2 separate regions of the Homo sapiens genome follow, and region 2 is linked to region 1. Evidence: fine-mapped expression QTL. Tissue or cell type: whole blood. Region 1 holds a variant in brackets; the other region holds the start of a gene. All regions are shown on one strand. Distances are between the middles of the regions.

What was found. PIP is the estimated chance that this variant, and not a neighbour inherited with it, causes the effect.
Region 2: it holds the start of TMC5-AS1, and the variant in region 1 is fine-mapped to the expression of TMC5-AS1 in whole blood (INTERVAL, PIP above 0.99).

Annotation. Positions count from the first base shown.
Region 1 is chr16:19,583,358-19,585,857 of GRCh38, forward strand. All of the region lies in intron 7 of VPS35L (VPS35 endosomal protein sorting factor like), which reads left to right. Among named protein-coding and RNA genes, the nearest start is that of VPS35L, 29 kb to the left of the region's middle. The variant C/CA (reference allele first, on the strand shown) is at 1,270.
Region 2 is chr16:19,486,700-19,489,548 of GRCh38, forward strand. It overlaps TMC5-AS1 (TMC5 antisense RNA 1), which reads right to left and starts at 1,202. Exons shown (of 3, transcript XR_007065016.1): 1 at 1,125-1,202; 2 at 230-621. It overlaps TMC5 (transmembrane channel like 5), which reads left to right. Exons shown (of 22, transcript NM_001261841.2): 16 at 246-321; 17 at 494-627. RefSeq lists an enhancer at 1,309-1,997.

The sequences.
Region 1 (2,500 bases):
GGATCTGGCTTCTCTCACATAGTGTAATGTGCCTTTTTAATTGATAGATAATAATTCTACATATTTATGGGGTACAGAGTGATATTTTGATACATGTATCCCGTGTGTAATGATCAAATCCAAGTAATTAGCATATTCATCACCTCACACGTCTCTGATTTCTTTGTGTTGGGAACATTCAAAATCTTCTCCTCTAGCTATTTAAAAATACACAATAAGCTGGGCCTCGTGGCACACCCCTGTAATCCCAGTTACTTGGGAGGCTGAGGCACGAGAATTGCGTGAACATGGGAGGTGGAGGTTGCAGTGAGCCGAGATCGCACTACACCACTCCAGCCTGGGTGACAGAGTGAGATTGTCTCAAAAAAAAAAAAAGGAAAACAGAAAGAAAAGAAAATACACAATAAATTTTGGACTATAGTCACCCTAGGTGCTATTGAACACTAGAACTTATTCCTCATATGTAGCTGTAATTTTGTACCTGTTAACCAACCTCTTTGTTCTCCCCTTGCCCCTACCCTTCCCAGCCTCTAGTCGTCGCTGTTCTACTCTCCACTTCTATGAGCTCAACTTTCATAGCTCCCACATATGAGTGAGGACATGCAGTATGTATCTTTCTGTGCCTATTTCACTTAACATGATGGCTTCCAGGGTCATTCGTGTTGCTGTGAATTACAGAGTTTCATTTTTTTATGGCCAAATAATATTCCTGTGTGTGTACCATGTTTTCTTTATCCATTCATCCATTTATATACATTTAGATTGATTTCATATCTTAGCTATTGTGAATAGTGCTGCAGTAAACATGGTACTGCTGGTATTTCTTTGATATACTGATTTTCTTTTCTTTAGATGATAACCTAGTTGTGGGATTGCTACATCATATGGTAGTTCTATTTTTAGTTTTTTGAGAAATTTCCATACTGTTTTCTAGAATTGTTACACTAATTTGCATTTCCACCCATAGTGTGTAAGAGTTCCCTTTTCGGCTGGGTGTGGTGGCTCACGCCTGTAATCCCAGCACTTTGGGAGGCTGAGGCAGGTGGATCACCTGAGGTCAGGAGTTCGAGACCAGCCTGGCCAACATGGTAAAACCCCATCTCTACTGAAAATACAAAAATTAGCTGGGCATGGTGGCAGGTGCCTGTAATCTCAGCTACTTGGGAAGCTGAGGCAGGAGAATCGCTTGAACCCAGGAGGCAGAGGTTGCAGTGAGCCAAGATTGCACCATTGCACTCCAACATGGGCAACAAGAGCAAAACTCTGTCT[C/CA]AAAAAAAAAAAAAAAAAGAGTTTCCTTTTCTCTGTATTCTTATCAGCATTTTTTTTCTTTCTTTTTGTTTTTTTTTATTAAGAGATGAGGTTGCCCAGGCTGGAGTGCAGTGACTAGTCACAGGCATGATCATTCTGCATTACAGCCTAGAAGTCCCAGACTCAAGTGATCCTCCCACCTCAGCCTCCCAAGTAGCTGGGACTATAGGCACATACCACCATGCCCAGCCTATTTTTGTCTTTTTGATAGTAGTCATTTTCATGTGGTTTTCATTTGATGATTCCCCTGATGATGAGTGATGCTGAGCATATTTTCACATACTTGTTGGCTAATTTGTGTATCATCTTTTGAGAAATGTCTCTTCAGCTCTTTTGTCCATTTTTTAATTGGATTATTTTCTTTAGCATAATATGTTTGAGGTTCATCCACATCATATTACATGTGGGTAGTTCGTTCCTTTTTACTGCTGAATCGTATTCTAATGTGTGGTTATCTTAACAAGTTGATGGGCATTTGGGTTGTTCCCACTCTCTGGCTGTTATGAATAATGCTGCTCTGCACATTTGCGTACAATTATTTGCGTGGACTTACATTTTTATTACTCTTAGGTAAAATTTTAGGAATGGAATTGCTGGGTCATATGGTAAGTTAGGATTAACTTGATGAGAAACTGCCAAACTATATTCCAGATGGCTGCACCATTTACCTGAGGGTTCTAATTCCTCCACATCTTCTCTGACACTCGGTATTGTCCATCTTTTCTTCTGTTTTCTTTTTTCTTTTTTTTTTTTTTTTTTGAGACAGGGTCTCTGTCACCCAGGCTGGAGTGCAGTGGTGTAATCATAGCTCACTCCAGCCTCAAACTCTGGCCTCAAGCGATCCTCCCGCCTCAGCCTTCTGAGTAGCTGGGACTACAATTGGCCACAACCATGCCCAGTTTATTTAAAATTTTTTTTTTGTAGAGACAGGGCCATGCTGTGTTGCTCAGTCTGGTCTTGAACTCCTGGCTTCAAGTGATCTTCCCATCTCAGCCTCCCAAAGTGCTGGGATTACAGGTCTGAGCCATCACACCTGGCCTATCAGTTTTGTTATAACCCTCCTACTATCCTAGTGGGTTTGAAGTGGTACCTCATTGTGGTTTTAATTTGTATATCCCTAACAGTGATGTTGAGCATCTTTGTACACGCTTATTGGCCATTTGTATATCTATAGTGAAATGTCTATTCAATG
Region 2 (2,849 bases), 96 kb before region 1:
CACCGGTTGTACTGGATTAGGGCCTCCTACAGTGATCTCATTCTACCTTAATCACCTCTCAAAGGCCCTGTCTCCAAATACAGTCACATTCTGAGATATTCGGGGTTAAGGCCTCAATATATGGATTTTGGGGACACACAATCCAGGCCACAATATCTTCTTTCTCTTCCCCCCAACCATCCCAGATTCACCCCGACTCCTTGTGTCTCCGCCAGCCTCTGACACTCACCCTCTCTCCCTCACAGGATTGGCATCTTCTTCTGCCCCCTGCTGCCCTTTATCCAAATGATTATGCTTTTCATCATGTTCTACTCCAAAAATGTGAGTCAGTCCGACATTGCCATCAATCAGCTTTGTTCAGTCACCTGTGACCTGGTGGCGCTTAAAGCTGGGGAAGGGGGCTCTGCAAAGGTGTCAGGAAGCCAGGCCTGGCTGGGGTCCCTCTGCCGCTGCTCCGGCTGCAGATGGGAGGTGGCTGCCTCTCTCTCTTCAGATCAGCCTGATGATGAATTTCCAGCCTCCGAGCAAAGCCTGGCGGGCCTCACAGATGATGACTTTCTTCATCTTCTTGCTCTTTTTCCCATCCTTCACCGGGGTCTTGTGCACCCTGGCCATCACCATCTGGAGGTAGGAGAAGGTGGCCTTGGGGGAGGTTTTAGAGACTGGGTGGATGGGTGTGTGTTTTAAAACGTAGGTTTTATTATAATTCAGGTGTGGTGAGGCCGGGTGCAGTGGCTCACGCCTGTGATCCCGGCACTATGGGAGGCCAAGGCGGGTGGATCACTTGAGGCCAGGAGTTCAGGACCAGCCTGGCCAACATGGTGAAACCCTGTCTCTACTAAAAATACAAAAATTAGCCAAGTGTGGTGGTGCATGCCTGTAATCCCAGCTGCTCTTGAGGCTGAGGCAGGAGAATCACTTGAACCCGGGAGGTGGAGGTTGCAGTGAGCCAAGATTGCACCATTGCGCTCCAGCCTGGGTGACAGAGTGAGACTCTGTCTCAATAAATAAATAAATAAATAAATAAATAAATAAATAAATAAATAAATAAATAAATAATGTAGGTATGGTGAAGCCCAACAGGTCAGGAATGACCATCACTAAAAAGATAGTTTATTACTCACAGTTCCTGAGAAGAGGGGGCACTCTATGCCACAAGGGACCACACAGGGAAGCATCAGGGTTGTTCAGGAGGCAGAGGGAGTGAGGGGAAACGGGCTAGAGGCTTTATTGTGGTTTTCTATGGTAAGGAATGGGCAAGGCAGGGGAAGCAGGTTTAGGGTTGGCTGGTTTGTCAGTAGGCTGTGGGATATGGATCCGCCCTGAGTTGTCTGGCACCTGGCCCTGGGGTGATTAGGGCAGGGGAGTGGTGGCCCAGAGTGTGAGAGCCTGATAAAGGGGGCGGTTGCGGGTGTGGGATCTGGATTGGTTGGTTTGCATTTGAAAGGTGTGCTTTGTAAGCTAGCCCAGGGAAGGGCAGCTAGCCCTGGGAGCTGGAGTCAGTAAGACCCCAGATGTCAAAACATCAGAATAAAAAGACATGCTTAATACAGTGCCTAACTCAAGTTCCCTGGCTAACCAACAGACACTAAAAGCCAGGGAGGGAATGCATCCTAGTTTGATCACCACCCATCCGATGCCCACGGTCAGGAGTAGCTTTCTCACTTCTGCCAAGAACTGAAGCTTCCCAGAATGGGGAGATGCCCCCCCACCCCGTTCCTCCACATCCAGAACAGAACTTCATCTAAATTAACAGAAAGGCAGGACTCATCTGGCTCCTCCCACCTCTCCAACCCCACTTCCCTTTGGCTCCACTGTTCCCCGCCCCACCACCCTCACCCCATTCCTGGAAGCCAGCAAGCCCCTCCCAACAAGGGCAGAGTCCTCTGAGTGAAGTCCTTTTCCCACTCCCTTTGCTTGGCTGCCTCCTCTCCACCCTCTGATTCTCAGCTCCAAGGCCCTCTCCAAGATCTGATCTTCACAGCCCTCCTTGTCTGCTCTCAGTTCCCCACTGCTTCTCTCTCTCAGACCTGAGTTTCTTTCCTTCATTCTATCATTCATAATCAGGAATGCCTCTGTGTGAGTCTTTAATTGTTACTCAACGATTGTCCGTTTTTCCCACCAGAATGTAATCCCAATAGGGCAGGAACTTGCTTAATATGAAGTCCCCAGAGCCTGACTAGAACAGTGCTTAACAGAATAAGCCATGGTTGAATGAACAATTGAATGAATTAATGAACAAGGGAGATGATTTTTAGGACACATGTGAAACTGGGGCTCTCAGTTCCTTGCTCCACAACACCCTTGCTCCTCTTGGCATATCCACTCTCTTCTCTCTCTTCCTTGCTCCACAACGCCCTTGCTCCTCTTGGCATATCCACTCTCTTCTCTCTCTTCCTCACCAGTTCCTTGTTGCCCTATAGTTTCTGCTCATTCCTCCATAGCTAACAGGCTTCCCTCTTTATGCTTCTTAATTCAATTTCTTTCTTTGAGACAGGGCCTTGCTCTGCCACCCAGGCAGGAATGCAGGGGCGCAATCACAGCTCAAACTCCTGGGCTCACGTGATTGTCCCACCTCAGCCTCCCGAGTAGCTGGGACTATAGGCACACATCACCATGCCTGGCTAATTATTTTTTTATTTTTTATTTTTTTGAGACAGAGTCTCACTCTGTCATCCAGGCTGGAGTGCAGTGGCGCAATCTCGGCTCACTGCAAGCTCCGCCTCCCAGGTTCACGCCCTTCTCCTGCCTCAGCCTCCTGAGTAGCTGGGACTACAGGCGCCCGCCACCACGCCCAGCTAATTTTTTGTATTTTTAGTAGAGACAGGGTTTCACCGTGTTAGCCAGGA